Linked DNA regions of Homo sapiens. The protein of the gene in region 5 purifies or fractionates together with the protein of the main gene of each other region. This does not show direct contact. Each region holds a gene or a part of one and is shown on either strand. Other genes may lie near its edges.

Region 1 (5,373 bases), about 31 Mb from region 5:
ATTTACTACCCAGCTTATTAGGAGGCAAAGGGTTTTTAGGTATAGCTATAGTCAGAAAGCAGAAAATAAAAGATCCTAGGGCTGGGTCAGTGGCCCACGCCTGTAATCTGACACTCTGGGAGACTGAGGCTAGAGGATTGCTTGATGCCAGGAGTTTGAGACCAACACAGGCAGCAAAGTGAGACCTCATCTTTACAAAAAAAATTAAAAAATTATCCAGGTGTGGTGGCACACGCCTGTAGTGCTGGTTACTAGGGAAGCTGACATGGGGGAAATCACTTGAGTCTAGCAGTTCGAGGCTCTGGTGAGCCATAATTGCGCCACTGCACTTCAGCTGGGTGACAGAGCAAGATCCCCCATCTCAAAAGCAAAAACCCCTCAAACAATCATAGGAAAGGGAGGTTGGGTATAATCTACCCATGGATGAGAATGGTTAGACAATGTAGTATTTTAATGGGCAGTATGGCCTAAAAGAATGAACAAGACGGTCCTATTAAGTCTACTTAGCACTGGTACTTCCATTTTGTGAGTCCATACTGTGTTTTTGTTTTTAATTTAATTTTTTAGAGTCAGAGTCTCATTATGTTGCCTAGGCTGAATTCAGACTCCTGGCCTCAAGTGATCCTTCTGCATCAGCCTCTCAAGCAGCTGGGACTACAGGTGTGGGCCACCATGCCTGGCCAAATCCATACTGCTGATGGTCTCAAGAAGCTCAAATTTCTATCCAATGAAAAGGGCATGAAGAGGCCGGGCATGGTGGCTCACACCTGTAATGTCAGCATTTTGGGAGGCCGAGGCGGGCGGATCACCTGAGGTCAGGAGTTTGAGACCAGGCTGGCCAACGTGGTAAAACCCCATCTCTATTAAAAAGTGCAAAAATTAGCCAGGTGTGGTAGAGGGCTGGTAATCCCAGCTAACTCAGCAGGCTGAGGCAGGAGAATCGCTTGAACCCAGGAGGTGGAGGTTGCAGTGAACTGAGATTGTGCCATTGCACTCCAGCCTGGGTGACAAGGGCGAAACTCTGTCTCAAAAAAAAAAAGCTGCGTGCAGTGGCTCATGCTTGTAATCCCAGCATGCCAAGACTGCGCCACTGCACTCTAGCCTGGTGACAGAGCAAGACTCTGTCTAAAAACAAAAACAAAAACAAAAAAAGGCTGGGTGCAGTGGCTCACGCCTGTAATCCCAGCACTTTAGGAGGCCAAGGTGGGTGGATTACCTGAGGTCAGGAGGTCAAAACCAGCCTGACCAACATAGTGAAACTCCATCTGTACTAAAAACACAAAAAATTAGCCAGGTGTGGTGGCGCATACCTATAATCCCAGTTACTCGGGAGGCTGAGGCAGGAGAATTGCTTGGATCTGGAGGCAGAGGTTGCAGTGAGCTGAGATTGTGCCATTGCACTCCTGGGCAACAAGAGTGAAAATCCATCTCAAAAAAAAAAAAAAAAAAAAAAAAAAGAAAAAAGAAAAGGCATGAAGAAAGCAAATGTAAGGGTACTGATGATCTGCTACTAATAAAACAAACAAATGGAAATTCTGGAGTTGAAATTATAATACAATAAATTTGCTGGAGGAGCTCAACAGCAAGTTCAAAATGGCAGAAGAATCAGTGAACTTGAAGATACAGCAATAGAAATAGCTGATCTGAAGAACAAAGAGAAATAACATTGAAGAATAATGAACAAAGCTTCAGAGATTATGGAAAAACTTCAAGCATACTAACATATGTGTAAGGAGAGCCTCAGAAGAAGAGAGAAGAGAGAGAGAGTAGAAAAAAATATTTGAAGAAAATGTCCAAAAACCTCCCATATTTGATGAAAAACATTAATCTACACATTCCAAAATCTCAAGGAACCCAAACTAGGAAAAATGTGAAGAGAGCTACACCTAGACACATCACAAACTGTTGAAAGGCAAAGACAGAAAATCCTGAAAGCGGTGAGAGAGAGAGAAAAATGACTCATCATGTACAGTGAAATAATTCAATTAATGACAACTTCTTATTTGAAAACAATTAAGGCCAGAAGGCACTGGAATGACATATTCAAAGTGGTGAAAAAGAATAAAAATGTCAACTAAGAATTCTATATCCAGCCAAATGATCCTGCAAACATTACACTAAGTGTCCAGGCGCAGTGGCTCATGCCTGTAATCCCAGCACTTTGGGAGGCCAAGGCGGCAGATCACCTGAGGTTGAGAGTTTGAGACTAGCCTTGCCAACATGGAGAAACCCTGTCTCTACTAAAAATACAAAATTAGCTGGCTGTGGGGCGCATGCCTGTAATCCCAGCTACTCGGGAGGCTGAGGCAGGAGAATGGCGTGAACCCAGGAGGCGGAGCATGCAGTGAGCCGAGATCGCGCCACTGCACTCCAGCCTGGGCGACAGAGCGAGACTCTGTCTCAAAACAAAATAAAACAGAAAAAAGAGAATCGCTTGAACTCTACAGGCAGAGGGTGCAGTGAGCCTAGATCATGCCATTGCACTCCAGCCTGGGCAACAAGAGCAAAATGTCGTCTCAAAAAAAAACCAAAAAAAAAAAAAAAAAAAATTACACTAAGCGAAAGAAGCCAGTCACAAAAATGCCACATATTTATACAATTCTATTTACATGAAATGTCCAGAATAGGCATCAATCCATAAAGAGAGGAGATAAGTCGTTGCCAGGGATGATTGCTCCTAGGTATAGGGTTTCTTTATTGGGGTGATGAAAATGTTCTAAAATTAGACAGTGGTGATGGTTGCAGAACTCTGTGAATATACTAAAAACCACAGAATTGTACATTTTAAACAGGTGAATTTTATGGAATGTGAGATTTACGTCAATAAAGCTGTTATTTAAAAATGAAATAGCCAGGCATGGTGGCTCACGCCTATAATCCCAGCACTTTGGGAGGCTGAGGCGGGCGGATCACGAGGTCAGGAAATCGAGACCATCCTGGCTAACACGGTGAAACCCCATGGCACGGCACCACCATGCCCGGCTAATTTTTGTATTTTAGTAGAGATGGGGGTTTCACCATATTGGCCATGCTGGTCTTGAACTCCTGCCCTCAAATGATCCACCCGCCTCGGCCTCCCAGTGCTGGGATTACAGGCGTGAGCCACCGCCCCCAGCCCAGTTGCACTACATTTAAAAGGACTGAACTCATCTCAAGTATATTCTTTGAACGCAATGGAATTTAATCAGAAATCAACAATAGGAAGAAATCTGGGAAATCCTCAAATATTTAGAAATTGAATAACATGTATCAAAGAAGAAATTTTACAAGGGAAATTAGAAATTATTTTGAACTGATTTAAGTGAAAATAAAACATTCAAAAATTTATGAGTTGCAACTAAAGCAGTGCTCTGGAGAAAAAAAACTCAGTTTATCCTACTTTACTTTTACAATACAGAACGCTTCTGTGACCATATGTGTGGGTTTTCTCCTCCCAGAAACCAAGCACTCAATTCTGCAGTGGACACCAGTTGGTGTCCCCTAATTCAAATCAATTCTGACACTATCTACCTGGAGACAGCTTCAGATCCTACAGGTTGAGGGCTTATTCCTACAAGACTGAGCCCTACTTCTGATGCCAATTGCAGGTTCCACATTCTTTCACCTGTTTTTCTGACCAACCGGCTATAAATCGAGGTTTCCATGACACCCCTGGATTCAATTAATTTGCTAGAGCAGCTCACAGAACTCAGGGAAAAACCAGGGGAGAAGTAACACGCAAGACCCAGCAAGCGTGTGAATGTGTAAGATCCCAAGTCAAAGGTCAAACCGCCTACTTGTCTCTCTCAAGTCGCCATCTTGGTCCTCTTCCAAGTATACTTTACTTCTTTTCATTCCTGCCCTAAAACTTTTTAATAAACTTTCACTCTTGCTCTAAGAGTTGCCTTGGTCTCTCACTTTGCCTTATGCCCCTTTGGTTGAATTCTTTCTTCTGAGGAGGCAGAAATTGAGATTCATGGCCACTAACATTCTTGCCTTGGCCTCTCAAAGTTTTGGAATTACAGGCAGGAGCCACTGGGTCAGGCCAACCTAAAAGATATGTTAAAGGATACAAATAGATAAAGAGATACATACGGCCAGGTCTGGAAGGGTCTAATGTGTAGGAGCGTCTATCCCCATGGAATTGGGGTGTGCCACACTTCCAGCACATGAATGTGTTCTTGTTCACCTTCCTGGAAGCCCCTAAACTGAGGTCTTTGGGTTGTTATGAAGGCTTCATTACATAGGCATGGTTGATTAAATCACTGGCTATCGGTGATCAATTCAACCTTCAGCTCCTTTCTACCCTCTCAAGATGGGGGGCTGTAACTTCCAAGCCTCTGAGCACATGGTTGGTTCCTATGGCAACCAGCCAACCAGAATGTGGTAATCTAGGGACTTCTCAAAAATCACCCTATTAACATGTACCAAGGTGTGGCTGAAAGGGGCTTGTTATATGGCCGGGTGCGGTGGCTCACGCCTGTAATCCCAGCACTTTGGGAGGCCGAGGAGGGCAGATTACGAGGTCAGGAAATCGAGATCAGCCTGGCTAACATGGTGAAACCCCGTCTCTACTAAAAATACAAAAAATTAGCCAGGTGTGGTGGTGGGCGCCTATAGTCCCAGCTACTTGGGAGGCTGGGGCAGGAGAATGGCATGAACCTGGGAGGCGGAGCTTGCAGTGAGCCGAGATCGCACCACTGCACTCCAGCCTGGGCAACAGAGCGAGACTCCATCTCATAAAAAAAAAAAAAAAAAAAAAAAAAAAAGAAAGGGGCTTGTTATAAATAACAAAAGTCTGTTTTTCACCTTTCTTGCTCTGGAGCAGTTCCAGAGGTGTTTCAGGAAGCAAGGACAAAAGGCCAAATATTTTAACAGAAGATACTCTTACTGCTTTAGTCACTGAGGAAAGTACAAGGGTTATAGAAGCTGTGAGCCAGGAACTATGGAGGGAAATATATATATATATATATATATATAAAACGTCACAAGTGCTTAAGAGAGAAATTTATAATTTTAAACATCTACATCAGAAAAGAAGGATCTCAAATCACTCAAATCAGCAACATAAGATCTTACCTTAGAAACTAGAAAAGATCAAGAAAATGACAAATTCTTAGCTAGACTAACCAAGAAAATAATCAGGGACCTCACATCTGTAATCCCAGTGCTTTGGGAAAGCAGAGGCGGACAGATCACTTTAGAGTTCGAGGAGTTCAAGACCAGCCTGGCCAACACAGTGAAACCCCGTCTCTACTAAAAATACAAAAAAGTTAGCCGGGCATGGTGACACATGCCTGTAATCCCAGCTACTCGGGAGGCTGGGGCAGGAGAATTGCTTGAACCTGGGAGGCGAAGGCTGCAGTGATCATTACTGCACTCCAGCCTGGCAAG
Region 2 (3,864 bases), about 24 Mb from region 5:
TTGCCATTTTCCAACATATGGGTTTGGTTAGTAAATTGAGGTGTGTTTTGGGAGTGGGGGAAATGGACAGTGTAGGATAGTGGCGTGTTTGTTATTTAGAGATTTATTACGCTTTTCTAAAAAGAAATGAAGTGATTATCCATTACACTATAAGTCTAAAATTAATGCTTTGCCTGGCTACATATCGTAATGTATTTTTTGCAGGGGTACTGAAGATGCACTGTTAAAAAACCAAAGACGGGCGCAAAGATTGCTTGAAGAAATCCATGCCATGAAGGTAAGGACTTGTGTGGGTGTGTATGTGTGTATGTTTCTGAGTATCCTGTTATCCTGCATTTTGTTTGTGTGTGGTATTGCTTATTTGAATATTCCCGAGAGTTGCGTAAGACATCTTGTATCAGTCTGTTTGGTGAAGAATGTAGCACATTTAGAAAATTGTAACATTTAAGCTTGCATTTTTCTGTTTTTGACTGAATTTGTTAAAGTGCTAGGCTAATTTGAGTCAAAATTGTGCCAAACTAAATTCATCTATGTTTAATAATGCCTCCTGCCTCAGGTTTTTATTTTTACTGTAACTTTAGCACGAAGTCAGTTCAAGAATTAAAGTCTTCATGCTATTTGGGAATGTGGATGGTGATATTGGTGGCTGACATCATGCTTTCCTTGTTGCCAGCTCAATAAATTTTTATGTATTGGTATCGGCATTTTATTCAGTTCTGTAGTAACTTCAAATAAAATTAGTGTTAGACCAATGTGATCCCATATTTTTGTTTTTTTTTTCAGTCAGACTCTTCACTAGCATAATTTTTAGGTCTTCTTGCTGCTCTTACTTTGAGGAAACTTTCATTTACCAAATGACATGACATTAAATGTCTGGGAGACTGTTTTACTGTAGAACTTAAAAACAACATTTGGTCCCAGCAATTTTCTTAATTGCAGGGTCATTTTGCATGCATGTTTGCCTATTATATTTTGGTATAACTTTCAAGTTTTGAATTAAGTAAAAGAGAAATAAAACTCTCTAACTATTTTAATTGAGTTAAGTTATCAAAGATTCTCAGCCTTTCTTCCTTTTAAACGGATAGTAAAGTGTTTAATAGGACAAAGTTATCCCAGTTAATCTGAATAAAAACATCTAGGAAACGACTCTTTGATATGAAGTATATTTGTTTCTTGTGTTCTTCCTTCCCTCTGCTGCACACTATTATAAAATTCATGGAATCCATCTGATATAACTTTTATTTCTCAAGGTTATAATTCCCTTTTTATTCAGTCCTTCAGGAAAAAAAAGTCTTCTGTATTTGACTGTCAGTGATCATTTGTGTCTCTGTGGTTTGCAGATTATTTAGTTTTTTCATATACCTTTTTAAAATGATATTCCTATGAGAAATAAAATCTTTAGAGATTTTGTCTTGAGAATAGCAATAAAATAGGAAGTTACAATTTATCTCTTTCACTTTCTCTTAACCAAGGTTCTTACTAAATTACATTGCCTACCTAAATTTTTCCCTGTAATTTCTTCTGAATAGTCATTTTTGTAGTCTTAAATTATTCAGAGGCTTTGAGCTACTATATAATTGCTGATTTTATTTTACCATGGAAAGAATGCAGTGTGTGTGTGTATGCATGTATATATATATATAATATATATATGTGCATACACATACACATACAATGTATAGTTGGCTACTCTGACTTTAACTTCTTTTGTAATACTGTTTAAAAACTGGAGTAAACTGGAATTTGTTAAATTTTTTATATATATAAAAAATATATACATACACACACACTACATTCTTTCCATGGTTTGTTATATATAATAACTTGTATGTGGTGTATGAAGAGTTTGAGAACAAAAGATACTCAATCTTTAGAATACTTCCCTTTTGTAAATTTCAGTGATACATTTGATTAATTAGAAAGAAAAGTTGTCCTTTTTGATCTAAATGTAAAGCCTGTTTTCTGTTTCTTGTTTTGAATCTCATCAGCAAAGGGAAATCTGATTCAGTGATAAAGTTTGTAGGTTTACAAGATTACCACATCACTATCGTGGTTTGGTTTGGTTTGGTTTGGTTTGATTTGTGTTCTATTTTTCCCTGTGATTGCGCAATGGAATGGTTGCATCATAGAAAGCCAAATTCATAGCCTATGTATTCCTTAAATTCATAAAATTCATAGTATATATATGTCTTGAGTTTGTGGCAGGAGTTAGGGCAGGCTGGGTTGGCTACTCTGACTTCAACTTCTTTTGTAATGCTTTTTAAAAACTGGAATGAATTTAAATATAAAATGAATACTAGAAAGACTATATATTTGCTGTTCTTACGTGTCAAATTTTATTCCTTATTTATGGTTCTTTTACAAATTTTGTTGTCTTTTCTAAACAAAGCAAATAAATAAAGCATTTTTCTTAATTAAAAGGTCATTTGTAATTTTCTTAGGAAATGGTTATTACCTACTTGGGAGTATCAAATAAATGATGACAAAACAAACTCTCAATCTCAATTAAATTTGGAGAAAAGACCTCTGCTCATTTATTTTTCCAGAGAAATTTTTTCCTTGGCTCAGACACTGCTTCATTTTTATAGTCTTATTGATGACATACTATCCTATTCTTGCTTTCTATAATAATAGGGTATTTTGTTGCAGGATGACTTCTTTGTGAAGAAATCATGAGTATTTTTAGAAATGAGAGTTTGCTTTTTCTGGCCAACTAAGAAAAAAAATTGGCTTGATCTTTACACTATAAAATCATAGGTTCTAATTTTATAGACTATGGTGTATGAAACCCAAGTCTTTGCTGCCTTTTCTATAATAGTGTCCATACTTTTAACTTTGATATTAGTAGAAATATTGCCTTCTAAAACAGTTTCTTTTTCTTTGAAAGTTAGTTAAATTAGCCTATCAACACTTATAGATCAGTAAGTTACTTAACTGGAGAAGGAGATGGTAAAATTCAAGCATATACTGAAATTACTCAAAATGTGCAACAAGTCTCTTACTCAATAATAAAAGTAACAACTAGCTTTTACTGAGCATTTACTATGTGCCAGGCATTATATTATGTGTTTTATATTTACTGTCTCACTAGGTAGATATCATTTTTATCCCTGTCTTACAGAATAAGAAACTCAAGCTTAGAGAAACTGAGCAACTTATAACTGATTATAAAGCTAATTATGTTATCCACTGTAGTATACTGCTTCAGTAAGTTGAGAACATCCTATGATATATCCAGACTCACTTTCCTAGATATTGGAGGAGATAATTTAGTAAACATGAAACTTGCCATCTAGGAAAAAAAAGACTGAAAGATGTGCAACGTGTTTTCAGATCCTTTAATTCCTGACAGGTAAATATACACAGTAGCCTATATCTGTATTTCTTTTTTTTTTACTTGAGATGGAGTCTCTCTCTGTCGCCCATGCTGGAGTGCAGTGACCCGATCTCTGCTCACTGTAACCTCCGCCTCCTGGGTTCAAATGATTCTCCTGCCACAGTCTCCTGAGTAACTGGGACTACAGTTGCCTGCCATCATGCCTGGCTAACTTTTGTATTTTTAGTAGAGACAAGGTGTTGCCATGTTGGCCAGGCTGGTCTCGAACGCCTGACCTCAGGTGATCCGCCCACCTCGGCCTCCCATAGTACTGGGATTACAGGCGTGAGCAACCACTCCTGGCCTATCTGTATTCTTTTTTAACCTCTTCCTCTCTTAAGGCTGTTACTTCTTCCTATCCTGAATATTCTTTAAGATGAGAATTTATGTATTCTTCTTTGAGACCTTGTTCTGCCTGCTACCTCTTACTTCTCCTCTAGTTTAAAACTTTCTCCTTTTGTTCTATTCTTCCCCTAGTTTTACATTCT
Region 3 (5,373 bases), on a different chromosome or scaffold from region 5:
TCAGCTCACTGCAACCTCCAACTCCTGGGTTCAAGTGATTCTCCTGCCTCAGCCTCCCAAGTAGCTGGGATTACCGGCCTGTAATCCCAGTAGCTGCCATCACGCCTGGCTAATTTTTGTATTTTTAGTAGAGATGGGGTGTCACCATATTGGCCAGGCTGGTCTCGAACTCCTGACCTCAGGTGATCCACCCGCCTCAGCTTCCCAAAGTGCTGGGATTACAGGTGTGAGCCACTGTGCCTGGCGGGAACTTGCATTTGAAACAAGCATTCCCCACATCTTTTGGCTTGAGGTTAAAAGGCTGGCTACAATCTTGCTATTCAACATGTGGTCCCTGGACCAGCAGCATCATTATCACCTGGGAGTTTGAGGAATGGAGTCTCAGGTGCCACCCTGCCCTTGTCAACAAGATCCCTGCGTGACCCCACTTGGAAAAGAACTGCTTTTCAGAGCCCTCCAGCTCTCCCCAACCTCCTAAAGGAGGGAAGGACTTTTAGCTCAGGAGGAAGGCTTTCATTTCATAAGAGGAAGGAAGGCTCATGATGCAGAGGTCTGCCTGGTGGAAGCTCTCGGGGGAGGACATTTCCTCCTTGGATCCGTGGATCAAGGAAAACCTTTCACCAATAAATGTTGGTTGGTGGGCGATGGGGACTAAGAGGGCAGGGCAGGACTGAGCATCTAAAGAGGAAAAACCAGCAGAAAAGAGGAATCTGGGGACAGAAGAGAGGACCAGCCCTGCCACAGCCCAGAGGATTTCATGCAGTGAGGCTTGCCTCCCCAGTGTTAGACCATCTGGGGAGGTTTGCTTTTTAACCTGGCAGAATTTCCAAGGAACTTAACCTTGGTGTCTAGGGAATTTGTTAACCTTGGGCAAAGTCAGAGACATTGTTGCTCGTGGCTATTACCCAACAAGGGACTAAATCATACTTATTGTACATATATATTTATATATTTTATTTGTAAATACTTCTGAAAAGCACCCCTGATATTGTAAAGTTTGGTTTCTATTTAACTATGACATAAGAGAACAACAACAAAAAAGCTAAAGAGAAAGTTACTAAGATAAAGAACACACACAGCAAAATCTCATCTTTCAGTAAAAAAATTAACTTTAACAACAAATATGGGAAACTATTTTCTGTGCACCCCTATTAGACGAGAATCACCTCAGTGAAGGAGAGCAAAATTAGAACATTACATCGGCTTCATGCCAGCACCTGAAAGATGCTTTTAATGATGCGATAAATGTTATTTATGGACCCTGAGTCCCAGTTTAAATATACCAGGAAAACTAATGTTTAATGAGCAATTTGATGTAAAAAGACTCCCTTTTACAAAATGAATATCAAATCCCCCATTCTCCCTGCAGTTTATTTTCTTCAGGAGCTTAGATATTTATATATTGCATTCGCTTAAAGCAAGACATATCTTTTGCAGGACTGGTCTAGGAGGGCCACTTACTTGATTGTGGGTTCTCCGCCTTCCATGCTGATCACCTGTCCTTCCTATACCCTCTTCTCTCCCCTAAAGTCTGCAGAAGTTGATTTTAGCCAAGCAGGCCAGTTGCAACCCTGTCACCACCCACAGTAGCCTTGAGCCAGCCAAAAGGCAATTTGGAGCATCCCTCCCCAGCCTGCGAGGGGGACCCAGGGGAGGGTGGGGACCTGGGAGCAGGCAGCCTCCTTTGCGTGTCCTCATTACCTGCCAGGTACTCAATGACTGCCGCCATGTAGACAGGGGCGCCCACGCTGATCCGGTACTTGAACGTCCCTTTCTTCAGATAACGCATCAGCCTCCCCACTGGAAAGATGACACCTGCCCTAGCTGAACGGGACAGCTTGGACATTTTCTTCTTCCCACTCCGGCCCGACATCTTGCTTCAGTTTCCCTCTCAGCTTGCTGACACAGTGGCCTCCCGGCACTAACACAATGCTAAAAAGGAAAGAAGACAGAGTTGAGGAAGGGTAGTTGGCAAACATCTTGGGCACAGTGGCATGGCCCTTGGGCACCACTGTGACACCTCTGACTGCCCTGGGGAGGCAGCTGAAATCTGGCTGCTACTGCAGGTGCAGGAGGCACGGAGTCAGGCATGGGGTCTCTGAAGGGCATGGGCAAGCCCACCCACAAACATCCCTCCCCCACCAAAGCAGCCTGACCTCAAGAGGAAAGGCCACAGAAAACTGTCACTGAATAGGGAGGTCTCGGTCCTGTGGTCAGCTGAACAATGATCCCCAAAGATGTCAATTTCCTCATCCCCAGAACCTGTGACTGTTATCTTATATGACAGAGACTTTGCAGATGGGATTAAGCTAAGGGTCTTGAGATGGGGAGGTTTATCTTGGATTATCTGGATGGGGCTAACATAATTGCCTTAGAAGACGGAGGCAGGGGGTCAGAGTGGGCAGTAAGAGATGTGAGAACAGAAGGAAAAGGATTTTCCCCTCAAAGCCATCAGAAGGAATTAGTCCTGCTGATACCTTGACTTTAGCCCAGTAAGGCTAATTTTGGACTTCTGACCCCTGAACTATAAGAAAATAAATTTGTATTGTTTTAAACACTAAGTTTGGGGTAATTTGTTCCAGCAACAATAAGAAAACTAATACAATTCCTCTTGGCTTATATGACTTTGCCCATTATAATGGTTAGTGTATTAGTCTGTTCTCACACTGCTAATAAAGATGTATCCAAGACTGGGTAATTTATAAAGAAACAGAGGTTTAATGCACTCACAGTTCCACGTGGCTGGGGAGGCCTCACAATCATAGTGGAAGGTGAAAGGCACGTCTTATATGGCAGTAGACAAGAGAGAATGAGAACCAAGCGAAAGGGGTTTCCTCTTATAAACCCATCAGATCTCGTGAGACTTATTCACTACCACGAGAATGGTATGGGGGAAACCACCCCCATGATTCAATTATCTCCCACCAGGTCCCTCCCACAACATGTGGGAATTATGGGAGCTATAATTCAAGATGAGATTTGGGTGGGGACACAGCCAAACCATCCGTTAGGTTTGACAGACATAACTGAGAGCTGATGTGTATTTTTTAGACACTTTTCTAAATCCTGCAATAATGTAGCACTCAGAAATGGAAACAGGCCAGAAGAGGCAGTTTTACTGAATATGTGTGGTATGCAAACATAGCAAATGAAAAGCCATAATGCAGCCTGAGCGTCTGTTCCTTGGAATGAGGAATCCAGGTTGATTTTGGGAGAAACTTCACAGTCAGCACAAAGAGGTGAATTCAGCACCAGGAACTAAGAGAGAAACATTCACTGTTGCTTAAGGAAGCTATCTTTTGTGTGAAGACAAAATAATCACATATTCCTGGACAGAGTCTTTGTAAGCCCACCCACAATCTAGAAAATTGTAGTAGATCTTGGGTAGGCTTGGTCTGCTGGTTGACAGGGTACCGTAACCGACAAATGGAATATAATCTTCAGTAAGTAAAAGCAAATTACAAGGGACAAACGGTCAGGAGCAAAGAAAAGGAAAATGACATTTTCTAGGAAATGTGTTAATATATCAAAGCTCTCTTCCCCAAGGTCAATGGCGTTCTCAGGGGCCGTTTCCTCTGGAGATGAAAAATGAGAAAGTCAGAACAAATTGAAATTGGTTCTATCCATTGATCCTGGTTAGGTCATCATACCAACAGGCAAGATGGCAAAGGAAAGGAGGGCCCAAGAAAGTCCCTAAATATGACAGAAGAAGATATTAAATGAATGCTTGGTTAATATGAAATAGATACAAAACCAGGATTTACTTAATCTAGGTGAAAGAGTGAACAGATTTCAATTTTCTAAAGCATCTGATAACTCCATTACGACCAAGGAGACTATATTAAAAGCTCTGAAATTAGCAACAAAGCCCTTTCTCAACTCTCACCTGTCCCCGAGGTGAATGATTCAAGTTTGGGGCATTTTAGTATATACTTCATATACATTATTTAAAATGCTCATATGTACTTACTACTCCCCTATTTTATACTTCATATGTCGTTTTGCCACCAAAGGATGTAGCTATTCATCAGTTAGGTACAAGCAAAGATGAGAGAAGTGCCTTAGACTATTATCTCTTTGACTGCAAGGCCCAGAGATCAGGCAATGTTGCCATGTTGTTTTATCACGTTGTTTCTTCATCTGGAAGAAACAAGATCTCCCACCTTTGCCGTGCTGCTGCTGTCTGTGGCTGCTCACTCTCATAAATCCACTTGTAGGGGTTTTCTCTTTGAGGAAGCAAGCAACTATGTGTTAGGTAAATGTATGGAGGGCCTGCTGTTAGTCAGCCCTGTCGCAGGAAAGAGGGGAAACAGACAGCATTGCTAAGTGGTCCCTGTCCTCACATAGCACGTGTTTGCTAGCTGGGTTGTGGTGCTCTAAATGGAGGTGGCTCTTGCTATAGTGGAAGGAGCCCAGGACTGCGGAACAGAAAGTCCTGGGCATAGCGCCGCTTCTACATAACTACAGTCATGCACCCCACAATGACCGCATATGACGGTGGTCCTGTATGATCATAATGGAGCTGAAAAATTCCTATGCCCTAGTGACATCTTTTTGTTGTTGTTGTTGTTGTTTGGGAAGGAGTCTTGCTCTGTCCCCTAGGCTGGAGTGCAGTGGTGCAATCTCGGCTCATTGCAACTTCTGCCTCTGGGGTTCAAACGATTCTCCTGCCTCAGCCTCCCAAGTAGCTGGGACTATCGGTGTGCACCACCATGCCTGGCTAATTTTTGTATTTTTAGTAGAGACGAGGTTTCACCATGTTGGCCAGGGTGGTCTCAAACTCCTGACCTCAAGTGATCCATCTTCCTCAGCCTCCCAAAGTGGTGGGATTACAGGTGTGAGCCACCACACCTGGCCAACCTAGTGACATCCTAACGGTGTAGCACAATGCCTTACTCATGTGTTTGTGGTGATGCTGATGTAAACAAACCTACTGTGCTGCCAGTCATATAAAAGTCTAGCACATATAATTATGTATAGTATATAATACTTGATAACAAATGACGATGTTACTGGTACTCCTTCTACTTATTAAAAACAAAGTAAACTGTAAACCAGCCTTAAATGGATCCTTCAGGAGGTATTCCAGAAGGAGGCATTATTATTACAGGAGATGACAGCTCCGTGCGTGTTATTGTCCCTAAAGACTTTCCAGTGGACAAGATGTGAAGGTGGAAGACAGTGTTATTGATGACCCTGACTCTGTGTAGGCCTAGGCTAATGTGTATGTGTCTTATTTTTTTTAACAGAAGTTTAAAAAGTTAAAAAAAATTTTAATAGAAAAATGCTTATAAACTTAAAGTATAATAATAATAAAATAAAAAAAGAAAAATGCTTATAGAGTAAGGCTATAAAGAAGGAAAATATGTGTAG
Region 4 (5,373 bases), on a different chromosome or scaffold from region 5:
GCAGTGGCGTTATCTCGGCTCACTGCAAGCTCCGCCTCCCGGGTTCACACCATTCTCCTGCCTCAGCCTCCCGAGTAGCTGGGACTACAGGCACCCGCCACTGCGCCCGGCTAATTTTTTGTATTTTTAGTAGAGACGGGGTTTCACCATGTTAGCCAGGATGGTCTTGTTAGCCAGGATGGTCTCGATCTCCTGACCTCGTGATCCACCTGCCTCGGCCTTACAAAGTGCTGGGATTACAGGAGTGAGCCACCGCGCCCAGCCGATTTTTTTTTAATTGTAAATGCTGAACTATGAAAATCTCATTTCTGAACCTCAAAAATGTTAAGAATATCAATACAGAAAAAATGATGATACACAGAAAATGAAACTAAACAGGAATACATGAATTATCAATACCTAATATTTAAACTCCCTAAGTTTTCTGTATCACAGATTAAAAAATGAAAATTTTGAGGGACCAGGTGTGGTGGCTCACACCTGTAATCCCAGCACTTTGGGAGGCCAAGGCAGGTGGATCACTGGAGGTTAGGAGTTCGAGACTAGCCTGGCCAACGTGGTGAAACCCCATCTCTACTAAAAATACAAAAATTAGCTGGGTATGGTGGTGCACACCTGTAATCCCAGGAGAATCACTTGAACCTGGGAGGCAGAGGTTGCAGTGAGTCAGGATCACGCCACTGAACTCCAGCCTGGGCAGCAGAGTAAGACTTTTGGGGGTGGCCTTTGGCCCAAGTACTTGTACAGCAGACATATTTTAAAAGACGATTTAAAAATAGGCTTCCCAAAGACTATGTTATGTATATTTTACCACATTAAAAAAAAAAAAAGACTTCCTAAATGTTAAAACAGTAAAAGGGATAAAGGGAAAGGGAAAGCACTAATAGTAACAATGTCCACTATAACAGTGTTATTAAAGTCACTGCCTCTTTATCTTAAAGAAAATTAGATTACATACTGTTTCAATTCTTCAACTGTAAAATTAGTAAGATCTGGAACATCTTGATCTTCATTTTGATCTTCCTCCTCTTCAGGGGGAGGCTGAGCAGTTACTTCACTTACTTCTTCAATTAAGAAGAGACATACAAATTTCTTAATACCATTCTCCATGTATTCTCTACAGAGGAACACTATAGTATTATAAGCAAATAGAGAAATCCACCTAGTCCATTCAGTGCTTCTGATCTCAAGTTTACTGGCCAAGGAACCTAATACAATTTTTTATTTTGATATGTGATGTTAACTCTGATTTCTTAAAAGTCATCTATAATAAAAGTCATTTATTTCATTAATATTCAAAACCTTTTCAAAAGTTAATCTAACATACAATTACTGGTAAAAAGCCTGCACATTAGGTATGTTAGTTAACTGAAACACATGTCCACTATAAGGTAGTTCAATCTTAGGAAATCTAAAAGAATTTCATTATAAACCGAAAATCAAAAATAAAAGCTATACCTAGGAATTCAATTATTGTAAGGACCTTTATCATAACTTATATCATTATATTACATCATACATCTCAAAAACTTAATGAAGCTTTGTGTAAATTTAAGTATAAAATCACACTTACGTGTTGTAGCTGAATCAGTTTGGGACAATTTGAGAATTCCTGTTTTTAGCAATTTTGAAAACAATTCATTTACATCCACCTGACTGAGATGATTATCAGGATATGCCTTAGGGAGGGCTCCTAACAAAAAAAAGAAAGAAAGAAAAAAAACCACTTTTGAAGTGAATGTAGAACTTAAAGATGCAAATTATACTAAGCATTTTTCAAAGTTTTCTTCAAGATGTCCTGCCAACAGTAAATTTGACAAAATCTAATTTATTAATAAGTTTAATTTCAAAAGCCCCTAAGATTATCTTTTCATTTAGGTCTACAAGTCAGCATGACTTGAGAATATATTCTTTTTTCCTTCTTTTTTTTTTGTTTTTTTATTATACTTTTAAGTTCTAGGGTACATGTGCACAACGTGCAGGTTTGTTACATAGGTATACATGTGCCATGTTGATTTGCTGCACCAATCAACTCGTCATTTACATTAGGTATTTCTCCTAATGCTATCCCTCCCCCAGACCCCCCACCCCCCGACTGTGCCTGGTGTGTGATGTTCCCTGCCCTGTGTCCAAGTGTTCCCATTGTTCAATTCCTACCTACAAGTGAGAACATGCGGTGTTTGTTTTTCTGCCCTTGTGATAGTTTGCTTAGAATGATGGTTTCCTGCTTCATCCATGTCCCTGCAAAGGACATGAACTCATCCTTTTTTATGGCTGCAAAGTACTCCATGGTGTATATGTGCCACACTTTCTTAATCCAGTCTATCATTGATGGACATTTGGGTTGGTTCCAAGTCTTTGCTATTGTGAATAGTGCCACAATAAACATATGTGTGCACGTGTCTTTATAAAAGCATGATTTATAATCCTTTGGGTATATACCCAGTAATGGGATTGCTGGGTCAAATAGTATTTCTAGTTCTAGATGCTTGAGGAATCACCACACTGGAGTTGAGAATATATTCTAAAACAAATGCTGACAACACTGAAAATAATGACCCTTTATGCTCCCTTCTCCCAAGCAATGCAGCACCACCCCATCTCCAACTTTCCACCTTTCTAATCTCTCTTCCTCATCTTCTAAGTACACTGGAAAAAGTAGTTTTATATAGATGAAATAGTTTATTACCCCTTAGCACTAAGCCTAAGTGGAAGTACTCCTGACCTCAATGCTCCCTGACGTAACAGGAAAACTGAAACAGGGAGATGAATCAGATGGCTCAGAGTATACCTGCTCCTATGACCTTTGCTAAAAAGCATACTGCCCTTGCAAAGCAGCTCAAGCTATTGCTGAAAAGGTGTCATGGTTACTAAAGCTTCAATAACTTGAATAAATAAGATAAGCCTAACAATCTTGTTCTGCTTGATAAGGAATCCTCATTGGTGAGGAATCATTCCAGTCTCATATTTTTCCAAGCACTATTCTAATAATTGTGATTCTTTTTTTGTTTTTGTTTTTGTTTTGAGACAGAGTCTCACTCTGTTGCCCAGGCTGGAGTGCAGGGGCACGATCTCAGCTCACTGCAAGCTCCACCTCCTGGGTTCACACCGTTCTCCTGCCTCAGCCTCCAGAGCAGCTGGACTACAGGTGCGTGCCACCACACCCAGCTAATTTCTTTTTGTATTTTTAGTAGAGACGGGGTTTCACCGTGTTAGCCAGGATGGTCCTGATCTCCTGACTCCATGATCTGCCTGCCTTAGCCTCCCAAAAGTGCTGGGATTACAGGTGTGAGCTACAGTGCCCGGCCATAATTGTGATTCTTTAACTATGAAAACAATATTTTAGGCCAGGTGCAGCGGCTCACACCTGTAATCCCAGCACTTTGGGAGGGTGATGCAGGTGGATCACCTGAGGTCAGGAGTTTGAGACCAGCCTGGCCAATATGGTGAAACCCCGTCTCTACTAAAAAATACAAAAATTAGCCGGTTGTGGTAGCCCATGCCTGTAATCCAGCTACTCAGAAGGCTGAGGCATGAGAATCGTTTGAAACTGGGAGGAGGTTGCAGTGAGCCAAGATCACCCCACTGTACTCCAGCCTGGACAAAAGAGCAAGAAGACCCTATCTCAAAAAAAAGAAAACAATATTTTAATGTATTTGTATGTCACTATGATGCATCTCACTACACCTATACAGAAAAGTTCTGAACCACTAAAAATTCCTCTTAATGGCAGAAATTCAATTTGCATCCACATACAGATAATCCCTACCCTTAACCACTGTATACATTTATCATACTGCCTTATATATCGTAGGCTAATTAATGTCTGTTCAAACTAAATGTCTGAATACATGAATGAAGAGATCAACTTCAATAATCAATTACAGTAACATTTAACTCACTAGTTTAACCTTTACTTTCCTTTAAATTAGCTATTTATATGCCTAAGATGCACAATTAGCTATTCAGATGTCTGAGGGCAGCCAAGTCTAGTAACCAACAGCATAAACTGTGGAACCAGACTCCAGGGATTTTAACCAGAAATTCCACTTTCTAGTTGTGTGACATAATCAAGTTCCTTATCTATGCCTCAGTTTCCCGTGCCTGTAAAAAGGGTAATAATAGTTCCTACCTAAGATTGATATGAGGTTAAATGAATTAATATTTCTAAGGAACTGAGGTGTTTGGCATTATTATGTGTTTTTTGTTAAACCAAAAAAAAAAAATCAATAGCCTTTCTATATTATAAAGCTCTTTGAGGCCGAGTGTGGTGGCTCATGCCTATAAACCCAACACTTTGGGAGGCCGAGGTGGGAGGATTGCTTGAGTTCAGGTGTTTGAGACCAGCCTGGGCTACATAGTGAGCACCCTCTTTAAAAAAAAAAAAAAAACTTTAAAAATAAAAATAAAGGTCTTTGAAGGATGAACCTTATTAAATTCATCCTAGCATACTGCCTAGCATACAGCAGATGACTAATATATGTCTGAAAAATGAACATGGGTATATTTCCTACTAGAAAAGGGATGTTTACACTTTCAAATTAGAGAAGGAACCTTGAGAGAAGCTAAATATAGCACACTGAAAACTGTTGACACATCTTTTAAGAGTAAGAAGAACTTGAAGAATGAAGACACACCTAATGTCCCATTCAATACCCCCTAACAAGGGGAATAATTATGATTTCCTCTGTGACACTGCTATGTCCTGTACACATACACATATAACCCAAGGTTGTAAAAGCAAAACAAGGCTGGGCACAGTGGCTCATACCTGTAGTCCCAGCACTTTGGGAGGTCAAGGCAGGTGGATCACCTGAGGTCAGGATTCAAGCCACCCTGACCAATATGGTGAAACTCTGCCTCTATTAAAAATACAAAAATTAGCCAGGTGTAGTGGCATGTGCCTGTAGTCCCAGCTACTGGGGAGGCTGAGCCCGGGAGAACTGCTTGAATTCAGGAGGCAGAGGTTGCAGTGAGCTGAGATCATGCCACTGCACTCCAGCCTGGGTGACAAGAGCAAGACTCGTCTCAAAAAAAAAAAAAAAAAAAAAAAAAAAAGAAAGAAAGAAAGAAACAAGAAAATTTGTAGTTTCTGTAGAGCATCTCATGCCACTAACCCCAATATAACAAATCCTCTGCTCAACAATAAAAACTGAGTTCTAAAGGAAAATACATTAATATAGCACTTGACAAGTTACAAGTTACAAAGTACTTTTGCATATACTATATCATTTGATTCTCTAAAAAAAAAAAAACAACAACAAAACAGACAAATACTGATACTACCATATCATGTTTTTTTTTTGGTTTTTGGTTTTTTTTCTGAGACGGAGTCTCACTCTGTCACCAGGCCTAAGTGCAGTGGCCTGATCT
Region 5 (5,373 bases):
TGAGCTATTCATAGTAGTTTTTAGCTTTTAGACTAAATATATTAATCATTGAGACTCCTGAAAAACTCAGTAATTTCAATTTTTTTTTCCAACAGCTGCTAACATTGTGATCCAGACTGAACCACCAGTTCCTGTTTCGATTAATAGCAACATAACCAGAGTAGTTCTTGAACCAGATAGTCGAAAAAGAGCTATGAGTGGTTTGGAAGGGCCACTCACAAAGAAACCTTGGCTGGGAAAGTAAGATAATTTGCTAATTAGTAGCATCTAATTGTTATTGTCGTTTGCATTGGTAAATTCATAAAAATAAGATTTGTCATTAATTAATGTTTTTCAAACTAGGTATCTTGAAGTTAGGGTTCCAGGAGACATCTTTAGAATGTTGTAAAAATTAAAAAGTTAACAATATTTATAATTTTTTTTTTTTTTTTAAAAGACGTAGTCATCCAGGCTGGAGTGCAATGGTATAATCTCAGCTCACCTCAACCTCTGCCTCCTGGGTTGAAGTGATTCTCTTGTCCCAGCCTCCTGAGTAGTTGAGATTACAGGTGCCAGCCACCATGCCCACCTGATTTTCTTGTATTTTTAGCGGAGATGGGGTTTCACCTTGTTAGTCAGGCTGGTCTCAAACTCCTGACCTCAGGTGATCCACCCACCTTGGCCTCCCAAGGTGCTGGGATTACAGGTGTGAGCTACCACATCCAGCCCAAAATAGGTATTTCTAATTCGTACCTACCTATTTCTACGCCTAACCCAATATTAGAAATTACTGAGACACTAGCAATGGATAGAAAAGAAGAAAAAAATGAAATCAACGGTGAAAAAAAAAAGCTTAGTACCTTTGCAGAAGTTGAAAATATGCCGTTAAAGATGATGTTCTAGCTGGGCACAGTGGCTCACGCCTATAATCCCAGCTCTTTGGGAGGCCAAGGCGGGTGGATCACTTGAGGTCAGGAGTTCGAGACCAGCCTGACCAAAATGGAGAAAGCCAAAATACAAAATTAGCCAGGTGTGGTGGCACGCGCCTGTAATCCCAGCAACTTGGGAGGCTGAGGCAGGAGAATCGCTGGAACCTGGGAGGCGGAGGTTGCAGTGAGTTGAGATTGCACCATTGCACTCCAGTCTGGGCAAAAAGAACAAAACTCTGTCTCAAAAAAAAAAAAAAAAAAAAAAAGGTGGTGTTCTAGCCTTCATTTAATGATGTTAGAGTCTTTGATAATTGTGGTAGATCTTTATGGTAGATCTATTTAGCATATGATTTTAAGTGTTAGTTGGGCCTTTTCTTTTTGTAATCTATTGCTGTTCACCTTTTCTATTCTCATGTAATAAGAATAATGTGGCCGGGCGCGGTGGCTCACGCCTGTAATCCCAGCACTTTGGGAGGCCAAGGCGGGTGGATCATGAGGTCAGGAGATCGAGACCATCCTGGCTAACAAGGTGAAACCCCGTGTCTACTAAAAATACAAAAAATTAGCCGGGCGCAGTGGCGGGCGCCTGTAGTCCCAGCTACTCGGGAGGCTGAGGCAGGAGAATGGCGTGAACCCGGGAAGCAGAGCTTGCAGTGAGCCGAGATTGCGCCACTGCAGTCCGCAGTCCGGCCTGGGCGACAGAGCGAGACTCCGTCTCAAAAAAAAAAAAAAAAAAAAAAAAAAAAGAATAATGTTGGCCGGGCGTAGTGGCTCACACCTGTAATGCCAGCACTTTGGGAGGCCGAGACGGGTAGATCACCGACGCCAGGAGTTCAAGACCAGCCTGGCCAACATGGTGAAACCTTGTCTGTACTAAGCATACAAAAATTAGTCGTGCGTGTTGGCATGCACCTGTAATCCCAGATACTCAGGAAGCTGAGGCAGGAGAATCACTTGAACTTGGGAGGTGGAGGTTGCAGTGGGCCGAGATTGTTCCACGGCACTCCAGCCTGGGCGAATGAGTGAGACTCCGTCTACAAAAAAAAAAAAGAAGAATGTGAAAATTGCTTAGTAATTTCCGAAGAATGTTAAGGGCTCACAAAAGGAACTTTAAACAAATTAATCAATCAGTTAATTTATTACATAGAGATGTGGTCTTACTATGTTCCCCAGACTGGTCTGGAACCCCTGGGCTCAAGCAATCCTCCTGCTTTGGCCTCTCAGAGTGCTGGCGTTACAGGCATGAGCTACTTCGCTCAGCCTGTAATCTGTTTCTGGATGCTTATGTATTTTCTGTGGTTTGAATTTTGAATATAATGTTTCATATGATTTTGAAGAAGTTTTCTGGGATTATAGGTGGAGCCACCATGCCCAGCCACAAAAGGCACTTAAAAAAATTATAAACCTAAATTCTTTGTGGTTATATCTCTTTGCTAGGCATGAAGTAGGAGAATTAACCAAGATGTATTAATCTTCCTTTTAGGCAAGGAAATAACAATCAAAATAAACCAGGGTTCTTACGAAAGAATCAGTATACAAACACCAAATTAGAAGTCAAGAAAATCCCTCAGGAATTGAACAACATTACCAAGCTCAATGAACACTTCAGCAAATTTGGAACTATTGTTAATATCCAGGTAAATGTGGCTATGTCAGTGACAGAATCCAGGCATTTTATGGGTCTTGGGAATATTTCTATCAGCTCACCTTGTTTAAATGAGTCAGTGGTTATTCTGATCATCTCTGCTAAGTGCTGTAAATGCCACCATATATCTATATACCCACTTTTATGATGGACTTGTTAAACCATGTTTGTTCTTGTGAATTCATTTGGTTCTTTTCTGCAATCTCTTCCTGAAAGAGAATGGGTAGCCTCACAGTTTTGGAGACTGAGAAGTCCAAGATCAAGGTGCTGGATGATTCATTTCCTAGGGAGTGCTGTCTTCCTCGCTTGCAGATGGTTGGCTTCTTGTGTTCTCACATGGCAGACAGAGAAAGAGAAAGAGGGGGTCAGGGCAGATCTCTTTCTCTTCTTTTAAGGCCACCGATACTATTCATTAGGATGCACCTTTGTGACCTCATTTAACCTTAATTACATCCTAAAAGCTCTATCTCTAAAACAGTAATGTTGGAGTTTAGGGCTTTAACATGTGTATTTTGGGGAAAACATTCATTACATAGCAGTGGGTCATAATTTATTTAACTATTTTCTGTTTTTGGGAATTTATATTGTTTTATTTTCTTCAAGGTTGCTTTTAAGGGTGACCCAGAAGCAGCCCTAATCCAATATCTTACCAATGAGGAGGCCAGGAAAGCCATTTCTAGCACAGAAGCAGTTCTAAACAACCGATTCATTCGAGTCTTGTGGCATAGGGAAAATAATGAGCAACCGACACTACAGTCCTCAGCACAGCTGCTCCTGCAACAACAGCAAACACTTAGTCACCTCTCACAGCAGCACCATCACCTGCCACAGCATCTACATCAGCAGCAGGTGCTAGTGGCCCAGTCTGCTCCTTCAACAGTGCACGGAGGTATCCAGAAGGTAATCTGGTTCACTGGGAATTAAAGGTCTTTTAGTTACACCCTCTAGATCAGTATTTTTCAATTCCTGGTCCTTGGGTCTTCTACAGAAGAGCTACTCTTAATTTGAACTGCAGACCAGTAGCATCTGATCTCCTGGGATCTTATAGAAATGCAGATTCTTGGGGGAAAAATTTCAGATTCTTGAGCCATACTCCATCCTACTGAATCAGAATCCCTATGGGTGGGGCCCAAGGATTTGTGTTTTAACAAGCTCTCCTGGTGATTCTTACATACCTTAAAGTTTGAGACCTGCTATTTTACATCAGAATCACTTACCTGGGTGCAAATTTCTGGGCTTCAGCTTCTCAAACCTCTGTAGAGTCAGTCTCTAGATACAGGGCCTATAAATATACATATTTAACAAGTACTCTTAAGTTATTGTTATGCACCCTAAAGTATAATAACCATCTACCACAGAGCAACTTTAACTGTAGAGCTATTTATTTTTTAGAATCAGTCTTTTTTGTGTCTACCCATTTGCCCTCCTTTTTCCCATGTAAAAAAGTTATATGTTCCTTCTAAAAATGGGAATAGAAGCTCCAAGAGAATTGGAATTTTGCCTGTTGTGTCCATTCTATCCCTAGTGCCTAAAACAATGTCTGGTACATATTGCTCAAAGCATATTTGATTGAATAGATGAAGGAAGGAAAAAACAAAACAACAAACTACCACACATCAGAGCCATTCAGAGATTGACCTAGATAATCTCATGCTTAGATTAAATACAGTCAGATTTTTAAAAAGTATTCCTTACAGTACATGGCATCAACTCCATTTATCATCCTGCTCATTTGCATCTAAATTCTCTTTCAGTTATGTTTGTATCCCACTTCATGTAAGGGTGCAAAGGTGAATGCTTCCCCTAGATGTTGGGTGAATAGTGTAGAAAAGAGTTCATACTATCACCTTCATGGTGATGATTAAACATGTTCTGTTAGTACAGCCCAAGATTGCATTATGTTTTTGAGGTGATCATTTCACAATTATTCATATTAAGCCACTGTCAGTTAAGACCCCCTAATTCTTTTCTTCTTCTTTTTTCCTTTTTTTTTTTTTTTGAGACAGTCCTGCTTTGTCGTCATTCAGGCTAGAGTGCAGTGGCTCAGTCTTGGTTCACTGCAACCTCTGCCTCCTGGTTCAGGCTACCTGCCTCAGCCTCCTGAGTAGCTGCGACTACAGGTGCATGCCACCACCCCTGCCCAATTTTTGTATTTTTAGTAGAGACGGGGTTTCACCATGTTGGCCAGGCTGGTCTTGAACTCCTGACCTCAGGTGATCCACCCACCTTGGCCTCCCAAAGTGCTGGGATTATATGTGTGAGCCACTGTGCCCAGCCAAGACCCTCTAATTCTTTCAGAGCATTGCATACTAGAGGAAACATTAAAAAATAATTAATGGTTTTTTTGTGTGTAGGTGCATGTATATTTTGTTGTGATATGTTTTAGACATCCCAAAAAGTATGAATAATCTATCATTTGTATATTCACCAGTTCCCCTTAAAAAATAAAACCTTACGGATAATTGAAGCACCTTCCCGTTCCCATTTTCTTATCTTCTTCCCTAGAGTAATCATCTTAAATTTGTACCATTTCTAGGCATGTTTTTAAACTTCTGCCACATAAGTGTTCATTTTGTATGTGCAGATGATGAGCAAACCACAGACATCAGGTGCATATGTTCTTAACAAAGTTCCTGTTAAACATCGTCTTGGACATGCAGGTGGTAACCAGAGTGATGCATCACATTTGTTGAATCAGTCTGGTGGTGCTGGAGAAGATTGCCAGGTATGCATTTTTGGGAGCTTCAGATATATTTAGAATCATTCAGTGAATTAACAGAATAAATCAGTTATCATTCAGACAGTGAAGACAGTTGTGAC
Region 6 (5,865 bases), on a different chromosome or scaffold from region 5:
GTGCCTTGCTCTGCAACGGGAATAGGACTTTCAGATCTGTTTTCAACCTCTAACATAGGTTCATCTGAATCAGAGTCACTAAGGTCCTCAGCTGTTAAATCTTGGCTGCCTGTAGACTTTTCTCCATGCAAGGTATCACTCAAGAGATCACTTCTCTCAGTCTCAGCTTCATCTAATCCATTTGCAACAGCACCACTGTCTTTGTTGGCAACAGCCCAATGGATAGGATGTGTGGCTTGCAGGTGTCGTTGAAGTGTTGAAGTCCCTAAGTGGGACCCTGGCCTACCCCGGCTCACACTTCTTTTACATATATTACACACAGCTCTTGAGATGTGCTGAGGATCAGTGTAAAAAAAATTCCAAACGGCAGATGTCTTGGCTCTAGTTCCAGGAATTAAAGCATGCTTGACAATGTTACTTTTGATGAGAAATCTCCCTCTTTCTGCCCTTAGGGCATCAGATGCTGATTTATCATGCTTCTTGCCCATTCTATTATCATCTAATGGATCAGTAGGAATATATTCAAAGCTTCCATTGCTTCCAGAAGAGGGAGATAAAGACACATCCAAGGTAAAGTCCTCCTCTCCACTAGCAACTCCAAACTTGTTGGCCCTGGTCCAATGAGGTGAATGCCTTGCTTGCAGATGTCGTTGAAGAGTAGATGTACCAAGATGGCTACCTGGTTTACCCCTGCTGACGCTTTTCTCACAGAGGTTACAAATGGCCCGCCAGGTGTACTGGGGGTCAACATGAAAGAAGTGCCACACAATGGAGGTCTTGGCTCTAGTACTAGGTAGATAGATCTGTTTTTCTATATTGCTCTCAAAAAGACTTTCTTCATCCTGCTCAGGGTCATTGGAAGCTAACAAAGCAGGGGCATCTGCAACAGGCCTCCCAGATCCCAAATCCTTACTAAACTTTTTGGCAAGAATCAATTTTTTTCGACGCCTTTTCCCCTTAATTCGCAAACCCTTCTTTCTTTTCTTTTTAGCAGGCTGTTTTGCCTCTTTATTCACTCCTTCTGCTACCATCTTTTCCTCTACCACATCTTCTTCATCTGTATTAGAATTAATAGGAACACATCCCAGAATCCCAGAATCACTAAAAGTGTTGCATCTTCTGCCAGGAGAGAGTGAAGAAACTGGTACACTTAGAGTACATACACTCATTCTCTTTATGTCTCCACAATTCGTACCAGAATCTGTTAGTGGGTTTATTACTCAAGCAGAAATACAGCTGTTCCTCTCTACTTGCATTACCTTTTCTCCAGTTTCTATGGGGAATCAAATTCCCACTGGACCAATAACTTCCAAGCCAGGTTATTTTTGGAGGAAAACTGACAGCAATGGAGAACATTCCCGAACTCTTTCTTAGAGGGCTTTAAGGTCCCTTCCAATTTTCTAAGTTCTGAATTCAAATAGTCCAGTGTCCTCATGTTACAGAAGTAAGAACTGAGTCCCCCTTTCCCAGAGTCACAGAGTTGGTTAGTAGCAGCTAGAAGCCAGGTCTTCCAAATCCCAGATCCATGTTCTTCCTGCTTCATCAAGAACTATATCTACTTGAAATGCCTTCACCTTGTAAAATACATATTTTTATGATGCCTCATGATAGCGACATCAATTTCCCTTAATTCTGAAATTAACTATTTTCAGGAAATCTCATTTAAACAAAAACATAGTGCATCATTCAACATTCATCATTTAGGACTGTGATTTGCCAATACAACCCAAAAAGTCAATTCTGGAAAGCCAACACAGACTCCGCATACTGGTCACAGCAAATGCTAGTTGAGCCCTTTCAGTTCTAACTAAAAGTAATACAACCTTTTAAAATGTGAGTGGCTGGAAAAAAATGCTTTGAGAAAAAAATTTTAAAACAAGGTTAAATGCTGCATTTTCAAAGTACTGTTTGTATTAAGAGTTAATTCAAGTTTAGTTTTCAGATATTTTTAGACTTGAGAAGCTTTTACAGCCTGTAAGTAACTCACAAGTTGTACGCTATAGAGATAGCAAAAAGTGAAATATGAACTTTAAACCACTTCCATTTTTCGATTGATCCCTCCCCTTCCCCCAATACCTACATACATTTACCCTAAAAAGCATCGCTATCTCTAGTTCCACAGCCTCTTTCTCAAGGTCCAGAACCAAGGCCTGGAAGATGTCAACAATATAGGCCTTCCCCATAGGAATCCGCACCGATTATGGGAGTTTAGGGGTGTTCTTCATTACGGTTTCACCAGTCCTACAAGGAGAACGGAAGTGTCCCTGTTGCTCTTGACTCCGACGCTGAGGGCCAGGGGTGGGAGTGTAATGAGAGTGGGGAATGGGTGTAGGATACCGGAATAAGGTCGGTGGCTTTCTGTATGTGGAGTTTGAGACAAGCTCCAAAGTACCGGGACCCTGGAGAGGAATGAGAGTAGGTAAATTCAGCGCCCGGCACTCAGTCTGATTGATTTAGGCAGTGAGGGTCCGCTCAACTAGAGAAACTGTTGCCCCGAAGAAAGCAATCTAGTGTCAGTTCTCTCTTCGGGATTCGGGGGAACAGTCGGTTTTCGGGGCTGCTCCGGGCTCCTCGAGATTAGCGAACACCGGATGTGGGGGAGGGGAGGAAGGTTGGCTGGGAAAGGAGCAGGCGCCGTGGGGGTGGGGTGAACGGGGTGGGGGTGGGGAGGATGGGAAAAGTGAGCGGGAGCCTGGGGCTCCCAGCCAGCCCCGGCGAGGGCCGCGACCGGGAGGTGGGGGGGAGGGGTCGTTACGGCGAAGCTGAAGGATCCGCTCTGACTTCCCGGGATAGGCCGCGACCCAGGGGCGAGGGGAGGCCGCTGCCACTCCCCTCGCCCTCTCCCCCACCTCCCCGGCCCCAAGCCACCCGGGAATCAAAAAAACGGGTCTAGTTACCAGAGAACAGAAACTTTACCGAACCGATGACACTATCCCCGACTCCCGCTTGCTGCCACGTCTTTCTTCTTGCTTGGCCGCTGCCGTCCGTCGTCCTCCCAGCAGCAGCAGCACTAGCAGAAAACCAAGACTGCCAGCGTCAAAGATGGCGCCTGGCTACAGGCTCCGCTCTAAGGCCCGGCCGGTAAAAGTGCCAGCACGACGCAGGGCGCGAGGATTCTGGAAGATGTAGTTCCTCTATGAGGCGATGCCTAAGATGGCTGCTCCGGGTCACAGGGTCACGTGACGGGGGAGGCGCTGGGTCGGGGAGTCCCTTCCCTTCAGAGGAATGCCTCGAAGCCGGCTTTCATAACGTTTTGTTTTTGTTTTTAAATCAAATGAGGTAATAAGCGGGAGGGCCGCAGGAACTGAGACTGCCATTCAGTAAGCGCTCAATTTATTCTTACCAAAGTGTTTGCTTAATGAGTAAATCTCCCAAACCATGTATACATTTAATTTAGAAATAAACTGTACTTTTCCTAAGCATGCAATGTAGAATGATTTGTTAGTTTATTTTTTACTTGAAGAAGTGAGATTGGGCTTTGGGGGGGTGTTTCTTTGATTTCTTAAAGCAAATTTGTGTATTGGAAAAGTAATTCATGCTCGTGACAAAATTCAGGAGAGTTAGTTGGAGGTCGCAATCAGCAGTCTCATCCCTGCTTCATTATTAACATTGTCCCTTATTTTCCCTTTTGAATGTTTTTACTTTTTCCCCCGGTTATAAAAGTAATACACGTGGCCGGTGCGGTGGCTCACGACTGTAATTCCAGCACTTTGGGAGGCCTCGGCAGGCGGATCACAAGGTCAAGAGATCGAGACCATCCTGGTCAACATGGTGAAACCTCATCTTTACCAAAAATACAAAAATTAGCTAGGCGTGGTGGCACGCGCCTGTAGTCCCAACTACTCGAGAGGCTGAGGCAGGAGAATCGCTTGAATCTGGGAGGCAGAGGTTGCATTGAGCTGACATCGCACCACTGCACTCCAACCTGGCGACAGAGTAAGACTCCATCTCAAAAAAAAAAAAAAAAAAAAAAAGTAAAAAACTTAATACACGTAAGTTTTTTTAGAAACAATACAGAAATATAGAGAGTAGAAAGTTAAAATCTCTATTAATCTCATTCTTGAGAAATAGCTCTCATTAACTTACCATATATCCTTTCTGGCTTTTACACTGAAAATATACTTAAATATATTACACATATAATAGGAGCCCAAGGTCCCCCTGGGGTAGTGGCTCAGCAGAACTCTAATTAGGTGGCAACATTTTACCTAACTTGGGTAAAGGATATAGTTGTGCTACTAAGAAAGGAAACACTTGATGATAAAGCAGATGGGACTTCAGGCACCTTTTATTTCCTCGTGTGCTTGTTCTTCCAGCTGCCGGGTTGGTGATGTGCGAGTCCCAGGCAGCCCAAGACTAGGAATTTATCAGAGCAGAGGGGTCCTGAGCCTCCTCATATCTGGGCTTTTATCTCCTTTCAAAGTAAGAACCACAACTTTAGAATCTTAGCTCCAATCTCTGCCTTACGTGACAGTGCTCTGGCATTGCCATGTCAACAGACCTAATAAGCAAGTTCCTGGTAGCCAATTTCTTTTTTTCTTTCTTTTTCTTTTTCTTTTGTTTTGGTCTTCATTTTTTTGGTCTGTGTGACTCTTACTGGTAACCAATTTCTGTCTGTGCCACGACACCTAGGGTTTTTAAAATTTACCAGAGGGCTCTCCACATAGCTTAAGGGTTTTCCAACCTAGGACTCTCCAAGATGCAGTCCTGGCCTGACTAGTGTGCTATATAGAGTTTATAGTTATATTTCAGTAAACCTAAAGTATCATTGATTGTAAGATACACTTTTATTTTACAAGCCTCTAAGTGGAAGAAAAAAACCAACAACTGCCAATTAAACTGACAGGCCGGCCGGGCAGGGTGGCTCACACCTCTAATCCCAGCACTTTGGGAGGTTGTGGCGGGCGAACCACAAGGTCAGGAGTTCGAGACTAGCCTGGCCAACATGGTGAAATCCTGCCTCTACTAAAAATACAAAAATTAGCCCAGCACAGTGGCACGCATCTGTAATCCCAGCTACTTGGAGGCTGAGGCAAGAGAATTGCTTGATCCTGGGAGGTGGAGGTTGCAGTGAGCCAAGATCACGCCATTGCACTCCAGCCTAGGTGACAGGCTAGGAAAGGATGTACATCTTAGAATGAATGAAAATATGAACAGGCTAAAACTATACATACCGTTTTGCAATTTGCTTTTTTCACTTTACAATATATCTTGAATATCTTTTAATGGTCATCAGCACTTAGAGGCCTACCATATTCTTTTTTTTTTTTTTTTTTTTGAGACAGAGTTTCACTCTTGTTTCCCAAGCTGGAGTGCAATGGCACAATCTCGGCTCAATGCAACCTCCGCCTTCCGGGTTCAAGCTATTCTTCTGCCTCAGCCTCCTGAGTAGCTGGGATTACAGGAATGCACCACCACGCCAGGCTAATTTTGTATTTTTAGTAGAGACGGGGTTTCTCCATGTTGGCCAGGCTGGTCTGGAACTCCTAACCTCAGGTAATCTGCCCACGTCGGCCTACATTCTTTTTAATAGCTCCCATCCCGCTCTCTGTAAGCCTCTTTTTACAATTTATTTCACCAGTCCCTTATTGATGGAAACAATCATGTTTCATTTTCCATTAGTATCTCTCAAGGGGGGGAAAGAAAAAATAATAGGGTAATAAGGACATTGAAGAGGGCAAGCTGGGCAGGGGCTCACGCCTGTAATCCCAGCACTTTGGGAGGCCCAGGCCAGCAGATCACTAGAGGTCAGGAGGTGAAGACCAGCCTGGCCAACGTGGCGAAAGCCTGTCTCTACTAAAAATACAAAATTAGCCGGGTGTGGTGGCACCCGCCTGTAATCCCAGCTACTCAGGAGTCTGAGGC

The links.
Region 1: the proteins of RBM27 (region 5) and ZNF346 purify together in Homo sapiens (co-immunoprecipitation; one large-scale study listed by IntAct). This does not show direct contact.
Region 2: the proteins of RBM27 (region 5) and SRFBP1 purify together in Homo sapiens (co-immunoprecipitation; one large-scale study listed by IntAct). This does not show direct contact.
Region 3: the proteins of RBM27 (region 5) and MACROH2A2 purify together in Homo sapiens (co-immunoprecipitation; one large-scale study listed by IntAct). This does not show direct contact.
Region 4: the proteins of RBM27 (region 5) and PCF11 fractionate together in Homo sapiens (co-fractionation; one large-scale study listed by BioGRID). This does not show direct contact.
Region 6: the proteins of RBM27 (region 5) and ZC3H11A fractionate together in Homo sapiens (co-fractionation; one large-scale study listed by BioGRID). This does not show direct contact.

The regions. Positions count from the first base shown.
Region 1 is NC_000005.10:177,028,083-177,033,455, reverse strand, and holds part of ZNF346 (zinc finger protein 346), read right to left. Parts: intron 1-5,373.
Region 2 is NC_000005.10:121,975,111-121,978,974, forward strand, and holds part of SRFBP1 (serum response factor-binding protein 1), read left to right. Parts: intron 1-204; coding exon 205-277; intron 278-3,864. UniProt on the Homo sapiens protein: May be involved in regulating transcriptional activation of cardiac genes during the aging process. May play a role in biosynthesis and/or processing of SLC2A4 in adipose cells.
Region 3 is NC_000010.11:70,072,159-70,077,531, reverse strand, and holds part of MACROH2A2 (core histone macro-H2A.2), read right to left. Parts: intron 1,933-5,373; 5' UTR 1,874-1,932; coding exon 1,702-1,873; intron 1-1,701. UniProt on the Homo sapiens protein: Variant histone H2A which replaces conventional H2A in a subset of nucleosomes where it represses transcription. Nucleosomes wrap and compact DNA into chromatin, limiting DNA accessibility to the cellular machineries which require DNA as a template.
Region 4 is NC_000011.10:83,173,405-83,178,777, reverse strand, and holds part of PCF11 (pre-mRNA cleavage complex 2 protein Pcf11), read right to left. Parts: intron 1,694-5,373; coding exon 1,574-1,693; intron 1,118-1,573; coding exon of another isoform or gene 1,071-1,117; exon of another isoform or gene 1,065-1,070; coding exon 959-1,064; intron 1-958. UniProt on the Homo sapiens protein: Component of pre-mRNA cleavage complex II, which promotes transcription termination by RNA polymerase II.
Region 5 is NC_000005.10:146,258,354-146,263,726, forward strand, and holds part of RBM27 (RNA-binding protein 27), read left to right. Parts: intron 1-95; coding exon 96-240; intron 241-2,391; coding exon 2,392-2,545; intron 2,546-3,156; coding exon 3,157-3,453; intron 3,454-5,137; coding exon 5,138-5,278; intron 5,279-5,373. Other genes in the region: RBM27-POU4F3, read left to right, coding at 96-240, 2,392-2,545, 3,157-3,453, 5,138-5,278. UniProt on the Homo sapiens protein: May be involved in the turnover of nuclear polyadenylated (pA+) RNA.
Region 6 is NC_000001.11:203,792,827-203,798,691, reverse strand, and holds the start of ZC3H11A (zinc finger CCCH domain-containing protein 11A), read right to left. Parts: upstream 3,070-5,865; 5' UTR 2,898-3,069; exon of another isoform or gene 1,170-2,897; coding exon of another isoform or gene 1-1,169. Other genes in the region: ZBED6 (zinc finger BED domain-containing protein 6), read right to left, coding at 1-1,169. UniProt on the Homo sapiens protein: Through its association with TREX complex components, may participate in the export and post-transcriptional coordination of selected mRNA transcripts, including those required to maintain the metabolic processes in embryonic cells.